Linked DNA regions of Homo sapiens: regions 1, 2, 3, 4, 6 and 7 are each linked to region 5. Evidence: fine-mapped expression QTL. A gene starts in region 5. Each other region holds a variant in brackets. All regions are shown on one strand. Distances are between the middles of the regions.

Region 1 (4,068 bases), 78 kb before region 5:
TGGCTCACTGCAACCTCTGCCTCCTGGGTTCAAGCGATTCTCCTGCCTCAGCCTCCCGAGTAGCTGGGATTACAGGCATGCGCCACTATGCCCGGCTAATTTTGTATTTTTAGTAGAGATAGAGTTTCTCCATGTTGGTCAGGGCTGGCCTCGAACTCCTGACCTCAGGTGATCTGCCTGCCTCAGCCTCCCAAAGTGCTGGGATTACAGGCGCGGGACACCGTGTTTTGAATTTTTGATAATTGCCATCTTAATGGATGTGAGGTGAAATTTCATAGTGGTTTTCATTTGCATTTTCCTGATGACTAATGACACTGAGCACCTTTGCATATTAATGTTGGCCATTTCTTTGGAGAAATGTCTGTTCAGGTCTTTTGACCATTTTTTAAATCAGGTTATTTATTTTTCTTTTATTGAGTTTTATGAGATCTTTATAAATTGTAGATATTAGCCCCTTATCAGAGATATATTTTGTATATTTTTCCCAATGTATAGGTTGCTGTTTCACTACGATGATGGTTTTCTTTGCTGTGTAGAAGCTTTTTAGTTTGATATAGTCCCGTTTATTTATTTTCAATCTTATGGCCTAAGTTTTTGGTGTGATATGCAAAACGTCATTACCAAGGCCAATGTCTAGGAGCTTTCCCCCGGTTTCCCTTTTCAGGAATTTTACAGTTCCAGGTCTTATGTTTAGGTCTTTTGTCCCTTTTGAGTTGATTTTTGTGTACATTGTACGATAAGGGTACAATTTCATTTTCTTGCATGTGGAAATCCAGTTTTTCCAGCTCCATTTACTGAAGAGACCCTCCTTTCCCCATGTGTTCTCTTGATGCCTTTTTTGAAAATTAGTTGACCATATGTGTTTGGATTTATATCTGGGCTCTCTATTCTGTTCTACTGCTCTGTGTGTCTATGTTTATGCCATTACCATGCTGTTTAATTACATAGCTTTATAATACAATTTCATATCAGGAAGTGTTATGCCTCCAGTTCTTTCTGAAGACAGCTTTGGCTATTTGGGTTCATTTGTGTTTCCATATGAATTTTAGAATTTTTTTCCTATTTTTGTGAAGAATGCCACTGGGATTTTGATAGGGATTGCACTGAATCTGTATGTTCCTTTGGGTAGTAGGGACATTTTAACACCATTAATTCTTCCAATCCATGAGCAGGAGAGATTTTTCTATGTATTTTTATCTTCAATTTATTTCACTAATGTTTTATAGTTTTCAGTGTACAAATCTTTCACCTTGTTGGTTAAGATTATTCCTAAGTACTTTCTTGATGTTATCATAGAAAAGATTGTTTTCTTAATTTATTTTTTAGCTAGGTTGTTATTTATAGAAATGCTACTGGTTTTTGTGTGTTGATTTTGTATCCTTCAACTTTACTGAATTCACTTACTAGTTTTAACAGTTTGTTTGTGTGTGGAATCTTTGGGGTTTTCTACATATGGGCTCATATCATGTGCAAATAGAGATAATTTCACTTTTCTCTTCTAATTCGGATGCCTTTTCTTTCTTCTTCTTCTGTGATTGCTCTTGCTGGTACTTCCAGTACCGTGTCAAATAGAAGA[A/G]GTGAGAGTGGGCATCCTTAACTTGTACCATATCTTAGTGAAAAACCTTTCAGTTGTTCCCCATTTATTATAACATTAGCTGTGGGTTTTTCCTAGATGGCCTTCACTGTTTTGAGGAACTTTCATTCTGTACCTAAACTGTTCAGAGTTTATATCAAGAAAGAATGTTGAGCATTGCTGAATGCTTTTTCTGCATCAACTGAGGTAACCATGTGGCCATGTGGCTTTTAATCTCGCATTCTGTTAATGTGATGTATTACATGGATTGATTTGCATATGTTAAAACCAGGCTTGCATGCTAGGAATAAATCCCACTTGGTCATGATGTAAAATCTTTTTGATGTATTCTTGGATTCTATTTGCTAATATTTTATTGAGGATTTTTGCATCAGTATTCATCAGAGATACTGACCTGTAGTTTTCTTGTAATGTCTTTGCCTGGCTTAGGTACCAAGCATCCTGGCCTCATAAGATGTGTTTGGAAGTATTCTCTCTAGCTCTATTTTTTCGGGGGAGGTGGTGGGGGGTAAAGAACTTAAGAAGTATTGGTATAAATTCTTCCTTAAATGTTTGGCAGGATTCAGTCATGAAATCATCTGGTCCTGGGATTTTCTTTGTTGGGAGGTTTCGATTACTTCTTCAGTGTTTGCAGTGTGTTTACAGTAACAAAATATCCATCGATCTCCGTCCCTTGTTAACAAATCTCAGAAAGGTGTCTATCTCAAACTCAGCAGATGCTTCTGAATGTGGATTGTGCCTGTCTACTCAATCTGACTTTGCAGAGAAGGGTGGGATGAGGGAGCAGACCCCGAGGTCCCGTAGGCTGTGCCCAGGGACACTGTGGTTCAATTTCAGTGATTTGCTCCTTTAGCATCTCTGAAAAGTGTCAAAGGTCTGCTCCTCTCTGTTCTGTTTACTGTGGCCCTGAATCAACTGTGTCCCCAACCCCCACTACTACGCAACCAGGCCTAACAACTTTATTCAGATGATGTCTGATACATTGACAGTCTAGAGAGAGAGAAAAAAAATGGGGAGGCACAGGGAGAAAGGTCATTAGAGTGCACGCTTTTTGGCTCAAAGCTTGGATGGGGAGCCAGTTCTGTGCTTGGGGCTCTGGCTGAGGCTATGGAGTGCAAGGACGTAAAAATCTCAGCCCCTTAAAGAGGAGCTGGAAAGGGCTGCCACATTGCCTCTGCCGCTTCATCAGCTCATAGCCAACTCTTCTTTCGTCCTCTCCTCCTCTCCTGAGACCCCCCAACCCAGCCTTCTCCCAACTTAACCAGGTCCCCGAAATGGAGGCAGAACAGTTCCTTCAGATTTTCCATGGCCTGGAATCCGGAATCATTTTCAGAGCAAGTACCACGTGTTTTTGAAATAATGCAGGGCTCTGCATTTATGTAATTGGAAAGTTTGCCGTGCTAGCCCAGGAATTAATTGTAGGCCAAATTCAAATTTGGCTGCAAACAATGTGTAAACTACTGTGTTCCAGAATCTGTTTTTCTTCCTCTTACGATAGCCTTGAAGGAACAGAGATGAGAGAAATAGAAATAGACATTTTCTAAAGACTTTACCTCTAGGACAAATACAAAGGTGTTCTTGAAAGCTATTTTATTCCTCTGCAAAATGCATTCATTGCCTAGTGCTCAGACCTATACAGCTGCTGTCTCCTCGTGCACATGGAGTTCCTGACATCAGTCTCGAAGGGACTCTACCTAGACTGTTTCTACAATGTTGTACCTTTATTGCTGTGAGGCCACTTGCCACATGGTGACCCAGCCCCAACTCAACTTTTGTTCTTGAAATACAGATACCAAGGGCTGGGCATGGTGGCTCAGGCCTGTAATCTCAGCACTTTTGGAGGCCAAGGCAGGTGGATAACTTGAGATCAGGAGTTTGAGGCCAGCCTGGCCAACATGGCAAAACCCCATCTCTATTAAAAATACAAAAATTAGCTGGGCTAGGTGGCACGTGCCTGTAGTCCCAGCTACTCAGGAGGCTGACGCACAAGGATCGATTGAACCCAGGAGGTGGAGGTTGCAATGAGCCGAGATCATGCCATTTCACTCCAGCCTGGGCAACAGAGCAAGACTCCATCTCAAAAAAAAAAAAGAAGAAATATCAACACCAAGATTTAAAATAATGTATGCTCAGAGTAATTTTTACATGCATGAAAACAAATCATTCATGCAGTAGTACTCCTAAGCCAACTTAAATCATTGTGGTTTTGCTAGAAGAGAGGTCTAAATCTACTGAGGTCCATTCCTGTGTCTTTCTAATTCTGTGATCAAAGGCCCAACTGAAAGAGTGATTTGAGCAAAAGGAGAAAGAAGTGATACTGGCAGGGGTGAACAAAGTTCTGCTAATCCGGGAGGATTCTCTGAATATCTGTGTCCTGGAGACTTTTGGAAACCATTTGCAAACTTTTAAACTTAATCTTCTCCAAATATTTACTGTTTATGCTTAATATGTGCATTGCACATCATCATTTGATG
Region 2 (4,068 bases), 230 kb before region 5:
CTCATTATGACAGATGAGGAAACTGAGGCCCAGAGAGATGAAATGACTAAGTTAAGAGAGTGGCAAAGACATTCTGGACCACACAGTGGCAAAGCTCGGACTAGGACCAAGATTGGAGTCTGGTCCACTCTTCACTACCCAACACTGCCTCTCACTTCTGACTGCTTTGCAAATTTTCTAAATTGACTGTCCACATTTTCTACTGATCTGTGGGTGTTTTGGCACCGTGAGTAACACCACCATTAACATTACCTCTGGATCAGTAACTGGATGGCATCTTTGAAGACTAATATGTTTCAACTGTAAGTACACTTTAATAACAGCTCGACAGTTTTATCTGCTTCTATAGCTGATCACGTTTTAAGATAGTACAGTCGTCATGATGATTTTTAAAGCTTCTCAAGCTAGGCGAAAACTACCCATCTGCCTTTTTTAAAATTTGCATTATTACCATTGAGCAGCTACAATGTTTAAAAACCAGTGACTGCTCAGACACGGTTATTTAGACATCCTCTAAGTCCCTACTTCCCACTGCATCTTGCTCCATTAAAACCTATTCCTCAAGCATCAGCATTCAGAATGAAATTAAGTAAGTTGGTGAACAAATTAAATTCAACCCTACCGACCTTCAAAGTAAAGACCAGTCTAATTGACAACCTGACCCCCATATTCCCATCAGAACATAATGAATGCTCAAAAACGGACACAGATGGGCCCACATTACTACCACAAAAATAACCAGATGCCCCCTTTTCTCACCAACATGTATGATTGCAAATTCTTTACTGCATGGCCACTCTAACTCTACTTTAATCTCCTACCTCCTAGATAAAAGTTGTTGGATACCCAATCACTGAATTGTTTCTGCCTCCTGGCCACATCCAACCCAGATCTGGTCCCATTTCCCTAATTCCACCTTCAAATCACCCAGTCCAACAACAACCCCAAGTCTGCCTTTCCAAAATAGTCCCAGGGTTCTTCTGGGTACACTGGCCCCGGCAGAAGCAAGCTAAACGAAGCCAACTTCTGTATAACTACACGTTGTGTTCCTGGTGGGTTTTGGCTGATGAGATTCGACACTGTTGTCTGAAGTCACTAGTAACGTATGGCAGAGTAGAAAGAACCTTAAATAAAAGGTCCACAAACCTAAATCCTGACTTCACTTCTCTGGGTTTGTTTCCTTACTGGTAAAATGACAGCCAGTCATTCTATCATTTTGTAAGTTTTTCATCTCAAATCTCCGTATATTGGCCAAATTGTGGGTCAAACAGGTTTGTTTCTACAGAAGAATATGTTCTAACTTCCAACCACTCACTCACTACAGGTTGAGCATCCCTTATCCGAAACACCAGAAGTGTTTCAGATTTCAAAGCTTTTCCAATTTTAGCATATTTGGAATATTTCTGAGTATCTACACTCTGAAATGCTCCGGTGAGCATTTCCTTTAAGCAGCATGTCAGTGCTCAAAAAATTTTGAATTTTAGAGCATTTCAGATTTCAGATTTGGGATGTTCAGCCTGTATTTCACTTTTGAAATACTGAATTAGTTAAGGGTTTGTCTGGAAAACTTCATTTTTCACTCTTAAAAAGAAAAAAGAGACCTTAATGCCAGAAACAACGGTAACAATGATGTGTTTTTTCTGTAGGCTTAAAATGTTCCATAATTAAAAGAATTTAAGTTGGCTCTTATTTGATTTCTGCTTCCGCAATGAAAACTGAGCGTGAGGACAGGGACACATCTCTGTCTGGGTCTTTGGAGGATTGTCTGTCTCTAACCAAACCCTAGAGAACAGCTATTTCCATGGCCCCGGCCCTTTTAATTAAAGTCTGTTTTCCCACTTCCCTCTCTTCAG[A/G]CCACCTGGTGGGCTTTCTGTGAACAACCAATACGCAGGCTTCGCAGGGAGGACACCAAAAACAAGAAAGGAGTAAAGCAACAGCTGTCAGCAAGACCAGGACCCACAGCGCTCGCTGGTTGAGTTAACCTGGTTGGCTGAACCAGTTACTATGTCTCCTACGGGGGAGCACAGGGTGGGCCTGAAGATCGAGAGGGGAGCAAGACGTGGTCCAGGAGCTCCCTGCCTGGAGGAGAAGAGAGCAGACGCGACAGACGCACCCGAGGGTCAACAACTGGGAACACGGACACCCTGGGGGTCCAGGGGGAGGCACAGGGAGGCCTCAGGGACCAGATGCTCTTCCGACTGCACCTCCTGCCAGCTCCAGGGGAGGTACTTGTGCCCTTGTACACAGGTCTGTGAGGGTGCGTGGGGCGTAGGTAACAGCACCTGGCTGCAAGTAGCTGGAAGCGCAGGGCTCCTCTGCAGTTCACACGAGAATGCTGGAGTTGGCCCAGGGCTGCTTCATCGCTTGGAGGTGGCAGGAGGAACCTGGGCTCTTCTCCTAGCCCTGCCTCAGCTGCCCCAGATACACATGGGAAGAAGGGAAGGCAGAGACAGCCCCTGAGGAGGGCTCTCTCCAGCTGCGAAGGCAGGCACTCCCAGAAGCCCCCGGGGGCCTTCCTCCATCGCCTCATTGGCCAGAACAGTGTCACATGACCACTCTAGCCGCAAAACGTGCCAGAAAAATGCAAATTGGCATCCAGCAGGGAAGAGGGGATGGCAACGGCTGTCAGGTGGACAATCAACCCTCCTCTACAAGTACACATGCACACGCACACACACGCACACACACACCGACTGAATGCTGAGTCCCCCCAAAATTCCTATGTTGAAGCCCTAACCCCCAAAGTGACAGTATTTGGAGGTGGGACCTTTGAAAGGTAATTAGGTTTAGATGAGGTCATGAGGCTGCAGCCCACATGATGGGATCAGTGTCCTTATAAGAAGAGGAAAAGAGACCAGAGCTCCTTCTTTCTCAATCTCTCTCCCTGTACTCTCCAGCCTCAATGCCATGTGAGGACACAATGAGAAGACGGCTGTCTGCAAGCCAGGAACCCAATCTGCTGGCACCTTGATCTAGGACTTCTAGCCTCCACAAGTGTGAGGAAACCAACATCTATTGTTTAAGCCACCCAGTCTGTGGCATCTGTTATGGCAGCCTAAAGAGACTAAGACACATACAAGAGTCAACTGCCTTCAAAGGCAGGCCATCCTCCTGACAAGGGGCTTGCGAGGCCCCTCAGTTAACTACTCTGGATCCCAGCTCCAAGCTGAAAGGGAAACAAGAGCAATCGGAGTTTCTTAGAAGTGCTGAGTACTCGCAGCATCTATAATAAAAGCTGCAATAAGCAATAAAGATGAGAGAAGTTTAGGCCTTTTGGCCTCAGCTTTTCCATTTATGTGAAGCCTCCCTTTTAAACTAAGGGGGCTTTGGCAAAAGTTTAAATGTAAACACATTTGTAGTGAGTGTGGGTACTGGAATAAGGGAGTAAACTACACTGCCTCTGAACTTTCCCTGATTCAACTCTGCACATTAATTCAACTCCCTCTGGAGGCTTGTGGTTCCAGGACGCCAAGCCTTGCCATTTTCCCACAGGCTGCCCTGTAGAGTCACGAGTAAACAAAAGCAGGGCAACCCCAGCTCCATGAGACCGTTCATTCACCACCGACAGTGATCTCAGTCACCCCATCACAGCACACCCAAACCCAGAAACTCGAAGTGATCTCCCCACAGGACTCAGCTGAAGCCTTTCACTATCTGTATGGACAGTAACAGACACAGGAAAACTTAAAAGCTGAATGGGAAAATGACCGCATCCTGCAAGTGAGCATCCTACTTGGCAAACAAGGAACACAGAATGATGAAAGCCTAAAAACAAAGAGCTCACTGGTAAATACCCAGACATCGGGTGCCACATGTCTATAGAGCATAACAACCGTTTTTCTTACGGGAATGGAAAGGAGGCTGTTTTAGAAAATATTCAACATTTCAAAAATTCATCTAATTCTGGAGTTAAAAGAGGCCTTCGAGAAATACCACTTCATTTTAGTGATGAGGAACAGAGACATCAGTCATAATCCAGATCCTATAGAAGTGAAGTGATCCGATTTATCTTGACTCCAACAGGATGCTTTTAAGGATCATTTAGGACTACTGCAGTAATCTCATGTC
Region 3 (4,068 bases), 220 kb before region 5:
TGGATTAAATAATATTATCTAACAAAAGCAGACTTACAAAGACATCTATTATTTTAATTAAGTAGTGATGACATTATGAACTTGGAATCATACTCCCACTGACATAATTTAATGCCTGATTATAAAACAAACTATTCTAAACATTTTACTTCTGTCTTTAATCTAGTTTTATTTTGCTCACTCTCATTTTTTTAAATAAGTTGTTCCCACGCCATTAGCAAGAAATAAATTTTGTTTTCTCTTAAAATGTTCACTTCTGAGATAAAGATTTGATTCAGTGACTTGGAAAAATTGGGCATTATTTGTTTCCTCACTGCATCTGCTGCAGAACCATTTTCTCCACAATTAAACATCATGGCTTTATCAAAGAACACAGGTCTAAACGTCAGAAACGCCAGGCCCAGTCCTTGCTCTGCCACCCAGGAGGCTCTGTGCCTTCAGAAGGCAAGTTTACCCCTCAGCATCAAAGTATTCTCACCTGAGCCCTGGCCTAGGCAATCAGAGGTCCTCACTAATCAGGACAGGCCAGTGCTAAACTTGCAGACATCTTTAACACACACACACACACACACACACACACACACTGGGCAGTGCAATCAGGCCACACGTGACAGGCCTTTCAAATCCACACACCCCACCCCCAAAAGGGGAAACAGGAGAAATCTGATTTTACCTGGCTGCAAGTGCAATGCAGAATAACAACGTGAGCCCTAGGACACCTCTGATCCATAGGAATCCACATTAAAGCTGCACTGCTGCCTGGGGCCCTCAGGACTGGCAGGTGACGAAGCAGAGAGAGAAGACAGACCAAGCACATTCCCTTCTCAATACTCGATATACAAAAACAGCACTATTTGACTAACAATGACTAGCTTAAAGTGACTTTCCAGAGCCCTCGTCCTTCCTGTCATCAGAACCGACTGACTGGAAGGCCAGTAATTTGATATCGGAAATTTACAATTGATAAAGTCATCAATGGTGACTCCTCCCAAATGCACAGAAGATCTAGAAATGCTGACCTCAGAGTTTCTGGACTGTTCAGGGCTTGACCAGGATTCTCTGGCTGAAAAAGGAAATACACCAGTCAGCACTCAGCATGCCAGAGAGCAGCCCAGGCCACAATATTCATATTTGTCAAGCCCCGACCTAACGAGAGCTCAGCTCTGGACAAAACAAAGCCGTGCGCAACGTTTAGACTTGACTGACACCTACTGTGTGCTCCGTGCTACTGCCCCTCACTTGAGATCTCCCTGGTCCATCTAGGCCACAAGCCACACCTGGCTTCACAAGGCATCCTGCCATGGAACAGCAGGCAAAGATTTAGAAGGCCACCTCAGCAAGTGCCACTTCTCAAAGATACCCAGATAGTTTTGTGGCTAAAACAAATATAGCACCCAGGTTTTCGTTATTGAATAGAAAAAGTTCAAAGCAGGAAACGTGCACTAAGAATGGACTTTCCCCCCATGGGATTGTCAGGGCCTCTCAATAGCTTCTCCAATGCCCTGGCAGCGGCCCTCACTCCCCACCTGATCTGACCTGGGCCTGCTTCTCATGCCTCATGCCAGTCTCTCCGCCACCTTGCTCCCTGCGCCTTAGCCACACAGGCCTGCCTTCATTCCTGGAACACACCAAACTCTTTCTGGGCTGCATGTCTTGGTGCACATGATGTCCCCACCTGGAGCGCATGACCCTCCCAAGCCAGCCCCCTTCCCACACTTCTCCTGACCCCTGGCTCTTCCTCACCTTCTCAGTCTGTATTTCAACATCACCTTCTCGGATCAACAATCCAACACGGGTCCCTCCGTGGTCAGTCTCTGTCCTAAGCTTGTTTCCCAACTCTCACCATCTGTAATTGTTTAATTTATTGCCAGCCCCATGTGTGTTTTT[T/G]ATCTTCTCCCCTCTAGATATTTAGCTACCTAGGGGCCAGGGCCATTTCTGGTTTGTACCTCGCTGGATCTTCAAGGCTAGGAATTCTAAATGTTCAATTATCATCTGTTAAAGTGATGAAATACCTCAATAAATTGTGCATGGAGAAAAGATGCAGTCTATAAACATTTTTATTTGTACTAAACTGGTCACAGTGCGAAAACAGCTGTTCACTGGTATTGGGCATAATTATTAATTTCTAGCCTCTATTTCTCCCTACTAAGTACCCAACCAGGTTGGGTCTGTGCTCTACTGTAATGTCTTGATTAAAATGGGATTCTTTGTCATTTAACTGTTTAAAACTGGTAATAGAAATTATATCAATGATGATGGTTTGGTTCCCAGGTAATCCACAAAAATATGACTGCTACTACTGGTTAACATTCGAAGTGCTTACTGCATCCCAGGCACTGCTTTAAACACTCTCATATTTCATCTCAACCTTCACAACAGTTCTGCGAGGGAGGTATTATTATCCTTATTGACGGAGGAGTAGCTGAGGCCCAGGGGGATTAGCAGCCTGCCCATGGTGATGCCATTGGAGGGGCCTAGCCGGGGCCTAGCCAGGACCCAGCCAGGTCCCAGCCAGGTCTACCTGATGCCAGAGTGCCAGCTCTTACTCGATAGTTCATCCCTTGCTAATGGAGCCCACAGGCTAGGAGGCAGGAGAGATGAGGTAAAGCTGTCTCTTCCTGATTTGGAGTCAGGCAAACTACTGTTTAAAATGTTTTTAGAAAAAGATCGAATTCGTCTTTTGAGCTCCTCCCCGTGAGTCCAGGTAATTCCTTAATTCCTCAAGCTTGCCCTCCCTGTTCCTCAGTTTCCTCCTGCTTCCCTGGACTACTCCATTAAATGCACCGCCAGACTTGGGCATTCATGACACAACCCATCATCACCTGCCTCCCCACCAGTGTGTGTGTGCACACACTCACGTGCACGTGCTCACATTCACACACATGTGCATGCGCACACTCACATACGTGCACGCGCACAGTCACACATACGTGCACGCACACACACACATACACGCACACACGCACACACACTCTTTCAAAAGCTCCAATTTGCTCCCTCTAGCTTTCAGAAGACTCAGGGTAAACAAGATACCTAATTAAATTATTTCACCCTGAGGTGTAAAATAATTCCTTGACCTTCCTATAGATGCTAAAATGCATAACTTTTAAAAGGTAACTTATTCACAAAGCACCGTTTGAATTATTATACAGCCAAAAGAATGACCAAAATTGGATGGCAATTTCCAGAAGCATCCAGAAAGAGAGTTGTGTGGAGAAGCCATCTGGCTACTGCTCACCTGATCTTGATTTTTTTTTTTAACTGTATTCCTTCTCCATTTCTGAACTCAGCGTCTAAGGTGATCCTGACTGTGCCTCTGGTGAACGCAGGAAGGACTGGAAAACTGGGGTTGGGTGGGGAGTTGAGCAGGGGCCTTGCTAAGTGTGTGGAGCTGGAGACCACCTATAGTTTCTGGCTGGATTTTATAAAACACAACACCTTAATATGTTCTGCCAGGTGTAGTGAAAATGTGCCTGATGAACTTGAATTCTTACTTGCTTCCAAAAGCTCTATATGAAGGGGAGCCCAAATTAGGAGATGAAAACGCAGGAGAAAAAAAAACTAATAATAAATTTCAACTGCTGAGTTGTGTGGGTCCAACAAAGAGTAACAGAATTATACATCCTTCAAAGCCACGCTGGTTTTGTTGATTTCCATGTGAACCAACTGGCCTAAGCTGACCTCCATTTCCCTTCCAACGCAGTCCAGCTGTGGCTTTCAACCACGGCTCACACATCAAAATCACCTGTGGAACTTCAAAAAAAAAAAAAAAAAACAAAAAAAAAACACCTGGTGTCTAGCTCCAGCACAGGGAGCAGAGAAGAGAATCGATCAAGATCAGCCACAAGTACAACACGGCCTGTGCCACAACACAGCCATGTCCAGAGGGCAGGACGGGGAGAACTGCAAGAACCATTTGGTGGACCATCTCTTCTCCCCCACCTCCAGGACCAAGCGCGTGAGCCAGCCACCCACCTGCGCAGCCAGCCTTCATGAGCCCAGCTTTGCCAGCACCGAGGTCTGAGTACCAGGGACAAGGTGATAAATGGTCCTGGCAGACCTGCCAAA
Region 4 (4,068 bases), 39 kb before region 5:
TGCGTTTTCAAAATAAAACAGCCCAGAGTCGATCTAATGTATCTGATTCAATTTTTCATCAACGGAGATCACATTTTACTTCAATTTTGTCAGCATCATGCAAAGATCACTGAGATCTTTTGTTAACAAAATGCCACCAAGTTTCATACAAACCTGACTAAAATGATGTTAAGTAGAAATGATATCCAGTAAGATACGCTTGTTTTACCCATGATGATAAACTAGTTCCTAAATGAAGGGTAGAGTGACACCAGTCTGTCTGTCTCAACCAGGAAATTATACTGTCAAATGATATATCATGGGGCTTTTAAATATTAGAATAAATACCCATAGCACTGGAGAAAGGTCGTCCAAAATAATGATAAGGTAAACTGTGGTTAATTCAGCTCCTATTGTCTAACTTATTTCTCTCACAACCCTGGGAGGCAGGTTTTATCATTTCCATTTAACAAGGAGAAATTGGCAGCTCAAAGAGACTATGCAACTTGCCCAAGATGAAACAGTGAGTAAATAGCCAAGACTCAAGTCCAACTCTGTCTGATTCCAGACCCCATCTTCTTCTCAGCAAACCACACTGCTTCTCCACATTTTCTCCCTGAACAGGTTTTTCATTTGGCCATATTAACTGCATAAACCCTTTGGAAGTATTTTCAACAAATGTCCTTGAAAAGAGTTTCTGGGCACCTGGTATTTAGAGAGGACTTTGAGAGGAGAACAGGTACCGAAGCAACGTGTTCAACTCTTGAGCCACTGAATTAATACATGGGCTGCCAAACACACCTACATAAACTTGGGACTAGATTTGTTCAAGCTTGCACATTTGGACTTCCTTTAAAAAAAAATATATACAACTTCTTGTTCTGAAAACAATGCCAATCAATTTGTAATGAGATTACAATGTTACGATAACAAGGGTAATAAATGTCCTGCCACACATTGAATCAAAGATCCATTGCATCATGGCTTAATAAGCCACTGGGGGAAAATTGCCTGGTTTCCATGATAATGAGTGGTGCTCTCATCCACACCAGAACTGTCCCGCACCAACTGCAGCCCAATTATATTGCCCTTACATTGGCCCATCCTGACCTATAGGGAGTTGGAAGCATTTACTAAATCAAGCTTGTCCAACCTGCAGCCCACAGACCACATGTGGTCCAGGGCGGCTTTGAAGGTGGCACAACACAAATTCATAAACTTTCCTAAACATAATGAAATCTTTTTGTGAGGTTTTTTTTTTTTTTTTAGCTCATCAGCTATCGTTAGTGTTAGTGTATTTTATGTGTGGCCCAAGATAATTCCTTTTCTTCTAATGTGGCCCGGGGAAGCCAAAAGATTGGACACCTTTGAATTGTACCAGTGATTACTAAGAATGAGCAGGACCTGTGCTCCAGAACTTAGGGCACACCTCCATTGCTCAAGCGGAGTGACAATTTGGGTCTATAAATGTTCCACTGATCCTGGCATTACTTTACAGCTTTGTGCTTTTATTTATTTATTTATTGAGATGGAGTCTTGCTCAGTCACCCAGGCTGGAGTGCAGTGGCGCGATCTTGGCTCACTGAGCTTTGTGCTTTTAAATAGTTCATTTGTCAAGTACCTTGGTAGTGAAATGCAGTGGACACAGTTGTATAAATCCCCTGAAGAAAACAAATTGATATACGCAATCTCCTCCCCTGGCACATAGAGGCCCATCTGTTCCAGCCGAATCTGCCAAGTCAGCAGAGTGAGTCTCGAGCCAGCCTGCATCAGCTGCCACACTTGCAGGTGTCCAGCAAGATGTCATCCACCTGCTGTCTCCAGGCTTCTCTTGCAAAA[C/G]TAGGTCATAATTCGGTGTCCATTCTGAGGTCCTGTCCATTCCAGCGGATAAAATAAGCAGAATTTATTCCTCAAGAGCCAACGGCCTTTTGTGATAGGATAGATCAAGCATGTCCAACCCATGGCCTATAGGCCACATGGGGCCTGGGACAGCTTTCAAGGCAGCCCAACACAAATTCATAAACTTTCTTAAAACATTATGAGATTTTTTGCAATTTTTTTTTTTAGCCCATCAGCTATCATTCATGTTAGTGAATCTTATGTGTGGCCCAAGACAATTCTTCTCTCAATGTGGCCCCAGGAAGCCAAAAGATTGGACACCTGTGGTAGATACTCATCTGTTGGAGCTATTTTGGGGTGGGCCTTTGCTGAAAGTCAATTGGTGGCCTCCAAGATGATTCCTCAGGATGTCTGTCTGCCCAGTAGAGGAGACGGCACTTCGGTTTCAGGTCCATTTTGGTGAAATGCATCATTAACAGATAAGCAAGAACATTTAGGACAAAAGATAGCGTGCTTTAGAATGACTCTAGGAAAAATTCTCCAATTGCAAGGGGATAAAGCATTGGCCTGCACTGTTCAGGAAGAATGGGAAAACTCCTTTTCATAGAATTTAAAGCAGAAGAGTAGCTGGAGTTCTGCCAGTCCTCTCTGAGCCAGGGCATACACTGGAAAGCCTTTCATAGTCAACTCCCAGGGATCTGCGATTGTCCAGCTTTACTGAGTGGGGTCTACACTCCGTCTCTAGGAAATGTAGCCATGGTCACACCTAAGATTTGGGGTTAGCATGACTACATTTCCTAGTGACATTACTATATCTCTACAGTACTAAAATGTCCCAAAGGGCTATTATGTATCTATTATGTTTTATTATTACAAGAAACCTAAGAGGAAGGTAGGGAATGATTATAGGTTAAATGCAATAAAATATCATGAGAGATTTTATGTATGGTGCCTGGGAAAAGGGAAAAGGGAAAAGAAGAGGGGGAGCGAGCAGATAACAAAGATGGAAGTCCTAAAAGATGGCAGTCCCCCTGTGTGGCAAAGTCTCTAAAACAGCATGTACCTCCAGAATATATTATGGTAGCCAGCCTTAAACTGGACAAGCTGAAAGGGAACTGAGAGATCTCCAGTTTGTTCTCTAGTTTTCAAGACACAAGTCCATAGACAGGAAGTCATTAGGTCAAAGTCACAAGTCAGGAGACAGGCAGAGCTGAAGAAAAACACAGGTAGAATCCAAAATTCATATTCTACTGGGTTGCTTATGAAAGTTAAAAGACACAATATGTTAACATCAACTTGTCAGCCTATTTATAGCAGACCTCTGGTGATTTGAGTAGTTCGCCTCAATCTAAGGGACAAGCCAAACTGTTTGGGATGGCTTTCTTATAGACTCATAATTAAGACTCTATCCTTAGTGTACTCTTCAGCCTATTGCACTAAAGTGAATACTACTTTATGTAAGAACAGTAAGTCCATTACCAAAAAATAAAAACAAGAAAAACACATTATCACTCAATCTCCTTCATTGGTCCTATAAATCAATGCTATTTTCTGAGTCCAAGATCCATGAAAAACCTTCACTAAGTATAAACATCATAAATCATTAACTGATCATTTCCAAAAAGTGACTTTAACTCTGGCCAGGGGTAAATATTCCTGGGATTTATGTCCAATCACAAGCAAGCAGTATTATTTCAGCACATTCGACAGTAGAATTTTGAAAGGGTCATCTAAAAATAGATTCTCAATGACTGCAATGTGAAATCATGCAAACAGAACAGCAGTTGAATGTTGTGGTTTAGAGCTGCAGAGAGACCCACTGAAGCCTTGATAATGTTGTCCCCCAGCACTCAGATAGGAAGCCGACACCAGGCGGCCTTGTTGGCAGTCTGGGGAAAGGCCACACAGCAGACCTCACTGCCTGAGGAAGGCGGGGAGTATGAAGGCTTGAGAGCCCAGAGACAGACAAGGAAAAGGGAAGGAGAAATGAAGGAAGCAAAAACAAGGGAGCTAAGAGGATTTCTCGGAGCACCACCAAGCCAGAGATCTTGTCAGCGCTCTGAGAAAAAGCAGAGAGATTCCATTCATCTCTGCCTTACAGTGGGCTCTTTTGTTAGGCTTGTAGGGCTTCTCTTTTATTCATATATTACAGAGGGGGAGTTGGGATGATATGGGGAGAAAAAGGAGGTGAGAGAGAAAGAGAGGAGTGGAGAGGGGAGAAGAAGGGAAAAAAGCATTTCCTCTCCATAG
Region 5 (4,068 bases):
ACGCTGTGGACCACCCATGGCTTTGCTCCTGCCAAGTGGACACTAAACATGGATGTGGCCCCATTTTGTGTTATTGGTTCTATTTGAATTCACATGCTTGCCTTGAGTCCCTGAGTCCCATGTGCAACTAAAACAGAAAGATAAAATCAAAGTAACCCTTTGTTCTTGCGGCTGTCTTCAGTAATATAAGGTGGGTCTGCATTGCTCAACAGAAAGTCTTCCGGTTCATTAAAACTGTACATCATTGGTACCATAAATATCCAACAAATATCAACTTGGCCATGAATTCTAATCAGCTACCTATAATACTACCAAAAATATCTTAATCTGGATGTGGCTATACACTGAAAATTTTGGTTTTTGCTGGTTGGTTATGGGCTTTGGTTTAGTGGTGCTAGAAAAAAACATAGCAGTTTTTGCTGTGACAGAGGATATGGTAAAACTCTCTGTCCAATTTCAGAATGCAGACGACAGACCCAAGCTTCAGTCATTTCATATAAACCTGCAGGGTGTCAAATGAAACTATTTTTTAAATGATGTTTTAACCCTATCTTTGCTGGTTGGCTGTGTTCTTGCTAAGGAGGCTTCTTAGATTCTGTGAAGCAAGCCAGACCAAAAAATAATTTGTTAAACGGATGTGGAAAAATGATTTAAAAAATCAGAATACTTTAGTGATGGATCCCCAAAGACTTCTCAGTTTTTTAAGTCTGGTCCTAAGCTACTTGGCTAGGAAATGACCAAAAATGGTCAAGAGATATCTTTGGAGTGTACCTTTTAGAAAACCTTTCCTCTACACTGCATCTGCAAACTGGGATTACCGGGAACTTTGAAATAATTGTACAGCTCCATCTAATCAGAATACTCAACAATTAAAATTCACTGATGCCAAAAATGGAAAGAAAATAAGTAAATAACTCTTAAGAGCAGTGGCACCATTTTTTTTAAATAACTTCCTCCTCCTGCCTTCAACTCTCAGAAGATTATCACAAAAACATCCATATTATGAATAGTTTTATAGGTCAGTTCCCTTCCGTACCACTAGGCATACACTGATGATCATTTCCAAATTTTTCCAGACTGCTTTGATATCATGTGATTCATTTTAAGTAGAGGCAGTTTTGTGAATTCCCTAGCCAAACTTTTTAGATTGTGGATTTTCATATAAATAAATTGACAGACCGGTGGGGGTGGAGGGGGAAATAGAAAAAGGAAAAAAATGTTTTTGTAAACTATCTTACTCCTAATCTGTTATTGAGTGAGCCATTTTTGGCTCTAAGGCACCCTAGCCCGTTAATTCAAGGTTACCTTCGGTCATTGCCATGGCTCCAGTGCTTATTATCATTGCCTCATCCACATCTTTTGAGAACACTCTGAGAATCTACACGGCTTTAACACACTTCTTCGCACTAGTGAGAACGCCCGCAATGCCTTATTCAGTAAGGTTAAATGAGTTTGTTTGCTGAAACATTCGCCACATGATCCCAACGCTCCTCCAGCTCCATCCCGTCTATAATCGCAGAGCGAACACTCACTCACCTTGGGCGTGTCAATAATTGATGGTCTGGGGATGGAAGCGTGAAACACCACTGCTTCACAGTCCGCCCCATCATCCAGGGACCCGGGCACATCTTCAGGCGTCTCCGCGGGCTGGGCCGCAGTGCGGTGACTTGAATTCCGATTCGCACTGCCATTTCTCTCTGCATGGGTGCTCGAATCTTGCCTTTTCTCTGGAGCTCCTTCTGCGCTTGGGTGTCTTGGCTGTCTGCCTGCTTTGGCCACAGGCTGCACACGGACGGTGGAATGAGTATCAGCCACGCCGGACTGATTGAAGGAAGCACTCTCCCTCGTATTCCCAAAACAGGCGAGCAGAGCTGAGCACGGAAATGGATGCATGCTTCTAGAGGGAGACTTCAGTCTTTTGGTGAGTCTTGCTTTCCACGTGGACATGACTTGCAGTGAATCATTGCAAAGTTCAAACGGGGCAAGGAAATTTTCCAGGGGTCCACATCACCTCCACTTTGCTTATAGGAACTCTTTCCAATTGCCCGAAGAGAAGAACTTGCTAGTGGTTGCCCCTAAATAGAAGTTGGGATGGCAAGGCCACCTTCCCTGAGAGTCACTTAGCCGCTGGGGCCCCTTTGAAAGTGTCCATCCTGGGCAATTTCGCGCTCTTCCTTCTGTGATGCTGTCAGTGGCTAAAGAAAGCTGTTGGGGAGGCATGTGAGTGGCTCCGGTTACAGTTCCTAGGCAGGGCAGACGCTTCAGGGTAGGGTAGTGCCAAGTCAATAGACAATTGCTTCAGGTTACCTAGGAGGCATAAAGATAATGTAGCCTGATAGCATCTGCCATAATAGCGTCAGCCTGCGTATCAATAACATCATAACAGCAGCAAAACCTTCTTTGGTTACCCCCCTTCAAATATTTATTCCCCCAAACAAAACAAAAACGACCCAGTTGTCCATCACAAATGAAGACCCCTAGAAGGGCCACGACCCTAGCAGCTGTTTCATTATTAAAATAGGAGGTAGACTCAATCTTTCGCCTGGAGAGATGCGGTGTGATGTGTTTTCTGAATCTTTCTGGACTTTTCGGGATCTTTCCGGAATCTTCCCGGAATCTTCCCCCCACCCTCAAAACAAGTTTCCTGGTTTCAGGATCCACATTGCCTTTTCTGATAACTATAAATAGGTCTTTGGTAATTTGATTTTTTTTTTTTTACTAGCTAGGCTAAGTTCTTGATTAGTTTTCAACAATACCAAAAAGAAAAAAGAGAGCCCTACATTAACAATTATCCTTATGTATTATGTTATTATGTGTGGAGGTATTATGTACATGTGAAGTATTCTACCTATATGGTATATATCACCTACTTTCAGAAAGTAACTCCTTTTTGAACATAGATCTTCTGTTTCTCAACACATTAATATGTGAATGGTGAAAAATAATAAATTATAAACATATTCTAAGACAATTCAGAATCAAGATTTTTCCTTAGCCAACTGTCTGCTAGGAATGTTATAGAAATGTAATACTGTAATGCTTTTACCGTTAATAGTGATTTTAGGGTCAAGATTTCTGGGCATGTTACCCACTCTTAATTAATTTGTTTGCTCTCTCTTTTAATTTAATGTCAAGATGTGCTCTTTGGCCCAGACAGGTGGTAGTTATTATATTATGGCACTGATTCCCGTTTTACAGAGGCAGAAACCAATTCTTTGAAATTTCATGTGACTAAGGCAAGTTTATGCCACTAAGAAGGGCTTGTTGGGTGCCCGAGATCCCTGTTCTCCTATCTGTCCTCTGAGTCTCATTCTATCTAACAATCATTTTATAGATGTAATGGCCATACGGGAAATATTGTTCTAAATGGACAGTCATATTCATAATACAAAAAGGCAGATATGGCTTTAGAATGAGTGGATATGGCATCAAATGCACATTTTATTTTAGTCTCTACTGAAAGTTAGAATATAGAAAGCTTCCATTTATTTAGAGGTTACCGTGTGGCAGGCCCCGTGCTATCCAAGCTGTTTCTGGCTTCCCAGGGTTGTGAGCTCATTCTTTTTTCATTGTGTCCCAAGTGCAAGCTGTCCAAATTCCCCACCCATAAGAAATCAGGGGGTTCAGGTTTCTACCAGGGTCCCCCCTCCCAGATATTCCTGGAGACCCCTCGGAACTGCACTTTGTCTCCCATTTGACTTGGTTGCTACAGTCCACTCGGGTCGGGTCGTGCCATGCTGTGCCCCTCCAAGCACACGTATAGTAAATCGGGGCTGTGATGCTGCATAAGACATTTTTGAAGGCTTGGAGGTAACAGGAAGGGATTTAAGAAAAGAAAAATGCACTCTTACACCTGGTTTCATTCACTCATTCATATATTCATTCAATTATGTGTCAAGCCCCTTTTGGAACAGAGAGTCAGCAGTTCACAGTGCAGCTTGCGAGCGGCCACATTCAGGAGACCGCTGAGGAAGAAAGCTCAGAGCCACTTTCTAGGTCTGCGGAGGCCCTGGGCTTGCATCCGGGCTCTGAGGACCACCTCTCCTCGCTCAGTGGGTGTGCTCAGAG
Region 6 (4,068 bases), 160 kb before region 5:
GTGGAGCAGGGGGGCCTTACTGGTTTTAATCCCTGGAGAGGATACATGTCTCTCAAACTTGCAACAGGAAGTGAGGGAGAGCCTGGGTCTTGCTCACAAGGAGTCAAGCCACTCAGGAGACACTGTCTTTTCAAAAATGGTCTAAACTGAATATGATTTAACATAAAATTGTACATTCTGGCATCTGAAGCTTAAGATATCCTAATTTCACAATTGATGGCTGCTTAGAAGTGATGAAACACGTAAGTGGCTATCTGTGTTTGAGCAGAGACAAAAGTAAAACTGTGTGCTCAGAGCTTCAACACATGTAAAGCAAGAGCAAGCTGTCCTGGTAGGGAAGAAAGGACACTGCTGCATCTAGGAAGGTGCTGTCCGGTCAGGAGTAAAGAATAAACAACTAGAGACAGTTTCAGGTAGACGCCAAAAAAAAAAAAAAAAAAAGGCCTGAGACAGGCCCATGACCCAGAGTTTGGTGCCTAATTACCATGGTGGCGCATGCCTGTTTTCCCAGCTACTTGGGAGGCTGAGACAGGCGAATTGCTTGAAGCTGGGAGGTGGGGTTTACAGGCGTGAAGCACCAAACCCAGCTTCTTGAAGTGAAATTTATATACAGTAAGATTTACTCTTTTTAGTCTACAGATCTATTAATTTTGACTCATGTAATACAGTTGTGTAACCACCTCCACAATTATCATAGGGAATATTTCACCACCTAAAAAAGTTGACTCATGTCCCCTTGTGGTGAGTTCCCTCCTCCCCACCCACAGTCTCTGCAATTTTTGCTCCATAGTTCTCCCTTTTCCAGAATGCAACATGAAGGGTATTATACAGTTCAGTCTCCTTCAGGGCTGCTTTCACTTCACAAGACGCTTTTGAGATTTCTCTATGTTCTTGGGTGTATCAGTAATTCGTTCTTTTTATTTCCAAGTGGTATTCCATTGTATTGTTTATCTCAGTTTATCCATTTACAGTTGATGAACTTGGCTTGTTTGCAGTTTGGGGTGACTATGAATAAAGCCGTTATAAACATCTCACACAGGTCTGTGTGAGAACATATGTCATATGTTTTCATTTCTCTTGGGTAAAAACCTAGGAGTGGGACTGTCGGGTTGTATGGTATTATGGGTTGGATTCTGTCCCTTGCCCCCACGCCCCCCAAAAAGATGTTGAGGCCTAATCTCCAGTCTTCGAATGTGACCTTATTTGGAAATAAGTCATTACGGGCCGGGCTTGGTGGCTCATGCCTGTAATCCCAGCACTTTGGGAGGCCAAGGCAGGTGGATCACTTGAGGTCAGCAGTTCAAGACCAGCCTGGCCAACATAGCGAAATCCCGTGTCTACTAAAAATACAAACATTAGCCAGGCATGGTGGTGTGAACCTGTTATCCCAGCTACACAGGAAGTTGAGGCAGGAGAGTCGCTTGAACCCGGGAGACAGAGGTTGCAGTGAGCCGAGATGATGCCATTGGGTACCAGCCTGGGCGACAGAGTGAGACTGCTTAAAAAAAAAATAGTCACTGCAGATGATGTAATTAAGATGAGGTCATATTGGAGTACGGTGGCCCTTAATCTGACTGGTAAGTATCCTCATAAGAGGAGACGAGACACAGAAACAGACACGCAGGAAGAAGATGGTCTTGTGACAACAGGGGCAGAGATTGGAGTGATGTATCAATAAGCTAAAGGGTGCCAAGGATTGCCAGCAAGTACCAGAGGTTAGAAGACATGAGGAAGGAAACTCTCCTATAACCTTCAGAGGGAGCTTCAGAGGGATTTAGAGGGAGCACCGCCTGTAGATCCCTTCATCCAACACTTGTAGCCACCAGAAGTGCGAGAAATAAATTGCTGTTGTTTTAAGCCACTCACTTTGCGATACTTTGTTACAGCAACCCTAGGAAAATAAGGCAGTACGGTCAGTCGGTGTACATTTCACTTAATGGGCACTTTTTCCCAAAGTGCCCATATTGACGTTCCCACCAGCAATGCATGAGAGTCCTGGTTGTTCTATGATCCATCAGCAGTCGACACTAGCAGTGTTTTTCATTTTAGCCA[T/C]TCTAATAGGTGAAGAGTGGTTTTAATTTTTATTTTTCTAATGGCTTATTATGTTGAGCACCTTTTCATGTGCTATTTGTCATCCATATATCTTCCTTAGCGAAGCTTCTGTTCCAGTCTTTTATCCAGTTTTTATTGGTTGTGTGTATTTTCTTAATAAGTTGTAAGAGTTCTTTTACAGGCATGTGTTTTCTAAATATTTCCTCCCCATCTATGACTTCTCTTTTTATTTCCTTAACAATGTATTTTGAAGAAGAAAAAACTTTAAATTTGAAGGCTTATTTATCCATGCCTTCTTTTACGATTTGTGTTTGTGTCCTAGCTAAAAAAAAAAAAAAAAAAAAAAACCTTTGCCCAAGCTAAGCACACAATTACATTCTCTTATGTTTTCTTTTAGAAGTTTTATAGTTTTTGCTCTTACATTTAGGTCTATGACGTATTTCAAATTAATATTTTCATATGGTGCTAGGCAATGGTGTAAAGGTTGAATTTCTTTTTTTTTCATTAGTATACAGATGTTCCATTGTTTGCTTTTTGAAAGGACTATGTCTTATACATTGATGAACTTGGTAGCTTTGTTGCAAATCAGTTGACCGTGTAAGTGTCTATCTACGTCTGGACTTTCTTTCTTTCTTTTTTTTTTTTTTTTTTTTTGAGATGGAGTCTCGCTCTGTCGCCAGGCTGGAGTGCAGTGGCACAATCTCGGCTCACTGAAACCTCCGCTCCCAGGTTCAAGCCATTCTCCTGCCTCAGCCTCCTGGGTAGCTGGGACTACAGGCGCGTGCCACCATGCCCAGCTAATTTTTGTATTTTTAGTAGAGACGGGGTTTCACCATGTTGGCCAGGATGGTCTCGATGTCTCGACCTCGTGATCCGCCCACCTTGGCCTCCCAAAGTGCTGGGATTACAGGCATGAGCCACCGCGCTTGGCCTATTTCTGGATTTTCTATCCTGTTCCATGTCTCTGTATATCTAACCTTTCATCAACACCACCCTTTCTTATTTGTATTACTTTACAGTAACTCTAAAATTCAGGTTTTGTGAGTCATCTAACTTTGTTGTTCTCCAAAATTATTTTGGTTGTACTAGGCCCTTTGCTTTCATATACATTTTAGAATAACGCTGATTTTTTTCAAAATGCTTACTGTATTTTTTTTATTATTATAATTTAAGTTCTGGGATACATGTGCAGAACATGCAGGTTTCTTACATAGGTATACACGTGCCATATTGGTTTGCTGCACCCATCAACCCGTCAACTACATTAGGTATTTCTCCTAATGCTATCCCTCTCCCAGCCCGCCATCCCCCCACAGGCCCTGGTGTGTGATGTTCCCCTCCCTGTGTCCATGTGTTCTTATTGTTCAACTCCCACTTATGAGTGAGAACATGCCGCATTTAACTGATGTCTTAATATATAGTCTTCTGACACATGAACATAGTATATCTCTCCATTTATTTAGGTCTTGTTCGATTTCCTTATCAATGTTTTGTACTTTCCAGCATACAAACCTTACATACATTTTGTTAAAGTAATCCCTAAGTATTTCTTGGTTTTGATGTTATTGTAAATTATACATTTTTAGAATTTCAATTTCCAATTATTTATTGCTTGTATTTAAAAATACAGTTGATTCCCACAGATTGACCTTGTATCTTATGAACTTGACAAACTCACATATTATATTTCTTAGTCATTTTTTAAATAGTTCTTTGGGATTTTTAATGTAGATAATCATGACTTTTGCAATAAAGACCATTTTATTTCTTAGGTTCTCTGTTTTTTTAAATTTGGCATTCTTTTCAGGGAATTTCAGGGAAGAGGCATGTCCACAGCCAGTGAGGAGAGTGAGATTTGGTTTCACATTTCGATGTTTTGAAAGCAACATTAAACTGCTGTTTATATTATGTAGACTCCTTTCTTACTTTTTCTGTTTAACAGAAAAATTCTGTGGCCCTGTTATTTGTGTTCTGTGACTGACTCCTACTGCAGACTCTTTGATTCTAGATCTTAAG
Region 7 (4,068 bases), 260 kb before region 5:
AACACTCGTGATTCAGGGACTCATTCTGATTGTATACAATTTTAAATACATACTGATATTGGTCAGGCGCGGTGGCTTACACCTGTAATCCCAGCACTTTGGGAGGCTGAGGAGGGTGAATTGCTTGAGCCCAGGAGTTTGAGACCAGCCTGGGCAAGATAGTCAGAGACCGTCTCCACAAAAAATAGAAAAATTAGCCAGGTGTGGTGGCGAGTGCCTGTAGTGCCAGCTACACGGGAAGCTGAGGTAGGAGAATCACCTGAGCCTGGGAGGTTGAGGCTGCAGCGGGCTGTGATCAACTCATTGCCTGGGCGACAGTGAGACCCTGTCTTGGGAAAAAAAAAAGATCACAAATATGCAGATTACATACAGAAGCCACTCTATTTCTGGCCTTAAATTCCTTCCCTCCCCTAGAAGTAGCCACTGTTAATATGTTGGGTAAACTTCCAGTCCTATTTGCAAGCATTTGTATAGATGTATGGATATGAATACTTAAAATTTTTTTCATATAAATGAGATCATATGTCTATTGTTCCACAGCTTGCTTTTTGTTGTTGATAATAAAAATTTTATTTCAGGTCAATCCAAACAGAAAAACAAAAAGGTCTGTCCATAAATGTTTTCAGGTTTCTTCAGGGAGAAAAATGAAAGTGTGTTCTAAGAGAAATATCATTTTCTCTTTCAGTTTATAGGCTATTTGGGTCAATACTTATTTTCAGGAATTTTAGTTTATAATTTTTTTATTTTTAATTATTTTGGATACAAAATAGTTGTACATATTCATGGGGTATAGCTTCAAAGCCTTATTTATGTATATGTATAATAATATATTTTGTTCTTTTAAAAGCTGCATTATAGTCCATAAAGAGAATGGGAATGTACTAGACTTAATCTAGCAAACTACTACTAGATAAGCAGGGTGCTTGCAAGATAAATTATGATAAATGCTGTAAATATTTCTTTTTTTCTTTTTTAGAGACAAAAAATGTTTGCCCAACAAATGTTTGCTCTATGATGCCCAGGCTCGTCTGGAACTCCTGGGCTCAAGTGATCCTCCCACCCTGGCCTTCAGAGTAGCTATGACTACAGGTGCACACCACCACACCTGGCCACACATGTCTTTGAAGAACAATCTCTATGCACATAAGTATTTCTTAAGGTCACATTCCTAGAAATGCAATTGGCGTGTCAAAAGATATGTGCACTTTTTTAAGTTTTATTGTTTCACAGTTTATCCATGTTGTAGCATTTATTGGTACTTTGTTCCTTTTTATGGCTGAAGAATATTCTACTGTGTGGCCATACCACATTTGCTTGTCCATTTATCAATTCTTGGACCTTTGGGGTTCTTCCACACTTTATTATGAATAATCTTGCTATAAACATTTGTGCGCAAGACTCTGTGTGTGGTTGTATGTTTTCATTTCTCTTGGGTAAATACTTAGGAGCGGAATTGCTGGGTCATATGATAAATCTGTTTAACTCCTTAAGAAACTGTCAAACTTTTCCAAAGTACCTATGCCATTACATTTTCACCAGCAATAAAACAAGGGATTCAAGTTTTCCACATCCTAGTCAACACTTGTATTTGTATATCGTTTTTGTTATATCCATTCTAGAGCATGTGAAAATATGTTTTTAAATTGGCTTTACTAATTTGCACTTCCCCTGATGTTGTATATATAATACATGCTTCTCTACATCCTCACCAACCATAGCTATTATCAGTCTTTTAAATATTTGCCTTGTGAATATTTGTATAAAGTTACTTCGTTGTTGGTTTAGTTTGCATTTTCCTGATAGTAGTGAGTGAGCATCTCTTCATATGTTGATCGACAATTTGTATTCCATCTTCTGTGAATTACCTGTTCATATATATATAT[A/T]TTTTTACTGGATTAACATTTACAGACATTCTGTATGTAATCCAGGTATTGCTGTATATGTAATATGCCTTAGTCTGTGACACTTAACCTTTCTTACATCTTTCTTGTACAAAAGCATTTAATTTTCACTAGTTAAATCTGTCAGTTTTCTTCATTATAGATTTTGGGCTAAATGTTATGCTTAGGAAAGCCTCCTCCAACACTAGGATTATAGAAATATTCCCTTATAATTTCTTCTAATAATTCTACAGTTTTATTTTTATGCTGAACACTAATAAACTTGGAAATGATTCTTATGTAGAGGAATATATATTTGTTTCGTTCCAGTTGCCCCAAAACTTTTCACTGAATTGTTTACCCTTTCCTAACTGATCTGAAATAAAATCCCACCTCAATCATTGTAAATTTTGACACGCAAGTCAGTCATTTTCTGGACTTTTTATGCCACTCCATTGAACAATTTGTCTTCTCTGAGACAATATTGGGCCAGTTAAATTACTGTTGCTTGAAGGTGTGTTTCGGTATCTGGTCTGGTAAATTCCCTTTCATAACTCTTATCTGTAAAGAAAATATCGCAACTAATCTTTCTAAGTGTAATGGAAATATTTCTGGTTTAATAAGATCTCATAAGAAAAATAAGGTAGAACCACATAAAGGGTTGAAATGGAAAAACAAGGATGAGTTCACATTCTTTAGCTCTGTCATTACTACAGGTGCAAGGACACTTTTGTCCACTAGCAACTCTCTTGTGCACCTCTAGTGCCAGATCATCTCTGTTTCTACTCTTCATCAAAAAAGAAACCAGGACTTCTTGAAAGGCACACAGTCCTATGTCTTGCGTCAGAAAAAAAAAAAAAAAAAAAAATTAGGATGGCCCCAAACATCCTATTGTTGTAACAAAGTAAGGATGCTGCCATAACTGTCAAAAGCAATATTTTACTTTTAAAAAAACCAAAACCCCACAAAAACAAAAGAATAAGCTTGAAGGACTTCCACCAGTCAAGCTGTAATATTCTGAGCATCCAAAAAAGGAGATGAAAATTATAAGGTGAGTCTATAAAGGGACACACATTCATAGAGACTCCAAGAGAAAAAGGAGTTGTAATACAAAATTAAGATGATTATAGGATATAGCTAAGGGACTATTCATATATGTGTGGACATTTTATATGTTGTATGAAGAATATACATTTTCATAAACCATAGACATGTGTTTGTTTCTAGCTATCCTTATAGGAATAAACAAAATCATAAGATAAACTAGAAAAACATAGTACAAACAGACAAAAGAAGCCAGGCGCAGTTGCACATACCTGTCATCCCAGCATTTTGGGAGGCTGAGGAAGGAGGATCACTTGAGGCCAGGAGTTCAAGACCAGCCTGAGCTGTAACATAGTGAGACCCTGTCTCTACAAAAAAAAATAAAAAAAAAATGAGCCAGACATGGTGGTGCATGCCTGTAGTCCCAGTTATTTGGGAGGCTGAGGTGGAAGGATTGCTTGAGCCTGGGAGGTCAAGGCTGCAGTGAGCCAAGATCGCGTCACTGCACTCCAGCCTGGATAACAGAATTCTGAGACTCTGTCTCAAAAAAACAAAATAAAATCGTCATCAGTGGTCACATATAATAAATACAAATAAAGGAGTCTACTTGATCATATGTGATCACAAATAAAAGAGGATCCAGCAGTTATGTCCAAAGATAATAAATAGCCAAATATCTCAGGGACAAGCGTTCACCACACAGACTTGATGGTTCTACTAGACAAAATCTCAAAATGATCCTAGTTACATGAGATATTCACAGGCATATGTAAGTTTTCGATTACACTAACGGACAAGATCAACAGATCATAAAAAGGCAAGACAATGAGTAGGTCAGGCTGACTATGCAAAATGAAAGCATCCACTTCTGGGAAGGACACCAAGTTTCCTAAATGAAAGAAGAAATGGCAAGATATTAAAAATTCCATGACAAAGCAAGGAAGAATTAATTTTAACGAAGGACTTTGTCCAGGGCCCATGGCCCATGACTGCAGCAGCGTGGACTGTGCTGCCAGGCCCTCCATCCTAAGAATCAGTCAAGAACCCAGATCTTGCTCCTTCAGTTAGCCTGAGGGGGGATTTCTTTCCTTTTAGTCTTGGTAAAATTACTGCAAGCCCAGAAAGGACAGTATAACAGAATATG

Which allele goes with the higher level. Positions count from the first base shown, and alleles are read on the strand shown. Sizes are in standard deviations (SD) of each study's normalised expression. Not every link is listed here.
In carriers of allele A in region 2, the expression in spinal cord of the gene that starts at base 2,181 in region 5 tends to be higher than with G alone (moderate effect, 0.54 SD a copy in GTEx).

The links. PIP is the estimated chance that this variant, and not a neighbour inherited with it, causes the effect. A credible set is the group of variants that fine-mapping cannot tell apart.
Region 1: its variant is the best candidate, but not a certain one, in a credible set for the expression of FAM107B in macrophages after interferon gamma (Alasoo 2018, PIP 0.74).
Region 2: its variant is the best candidate, but not a certain one, in a credible set for the expression of FAM107B in spinal cord (GTEx, PIP 0.63).
Region 3: its variant is the best candidate, but not a certain one, in a credible set for the expression of FAM107B in whole blood (INTERVAL, PIP 0.66).
Region 4: its variant is the best candidate, but not a certain one, in a credible set for the expression of FAM107B in coronary artery (GTEx, PIP 0.84).
Region 6: its variant is the best candidate, but not a certain one, in a credible set for the expression of FAM107B in tibial nerve (GTEx, PIP 0.79).
Region 7: its variant is the best candidate, but not a certain one, in a credible set for the expression of FAM107B in blood mononuclear cells (TOPMed, PIP 0.78).

What each region holds. Positions count from the first base shown.
Region 1 is chr10:14,694,452-14,698,519 of GRCh38, forward strand. The region is part of intron 1 of FAM107B (family with sequence similarity 107 member B); the gene reads right to left. Among named protein-coding and RNA genes, the nearest start is that of FAM107B, 78 kb to the right of the region's middle. The variant A/G (reference allele first, on the strand shown) is at 1,577.
Region 2 is chr10:14,546,158-14,550,225 of GRCh38, forward strand. The region is part of intron 2 of FAM107B (family with sequence similarity 107 member B); the gene reads right to left. Among named protein-coding and RNA genes, the nearest start is that of MIR1265, 110 kb to the left of the region's middle. The variant A/G (reference allele first, on the strand shown) is at 1,854.
Region 3 is chr10:14,555,343-14,559,410 of GRCh38, forward strand. The region is part of intron 2 of FAM107B (family with sequence similarity 107 member B); the gene reads right to left. Among named protein-coding and RNA genes, the nearest start is that of MIR1265, 120 kb to the left of the region's middle. RefSeq lists enhancers at 49-768, 1,003-1,062, 3,418-4,068 and a silencer at 3,488-3,782. The variant T/G (reference allele first, on the strand shown) is at 1,888.
Region 4 is chr10:14,733,259-14,737,326 of GRCh38, forward strand. All of the region lies in intron 1 of FAM107B (family with sequence similarity 107 member B), which reads right to left. Among named protein-coding and RNA genes, the nearest start is that of FAM107B, 40 kb to the right of the region's middle. The variant C/G (reference allele first, on the strand shown) is at 1,819.
Region 5 is chr10:14,772,717-14,776,784 of GRCh38, forward strand. FAM107B (family with sequence similarity 107 member B) reads right to left here and starts at 2,181. Exons shown (of 5, transcript NM_031453.4): 1 at 1,537-2,181. The coding sequence starts at 1,947.
Region 6 is chr10:14,617,333-14,621,400 of GRCh38, forward strand. All of the region lies in intron 2 of FAM107B (family with sequence similarity 107 member B), which reads right to left. Among named protein-coding and RNA genes, the nearest start is that of FAM107B, 160 kb to the right of the region's middle. The variant T/C (reference allele first, on the strand shown) is at 2,053.
Region 7 is chr10:14,509,474-14,513,541 of GRCh38, forward strand. No RefSeq gene overlaps it. Among named protein-coding and RNA genes, the nearest start is that of MIR1265, 75 kb to the left of the region's middle. The variant A/T (reference allele first, on the strand shown) is at 1,884.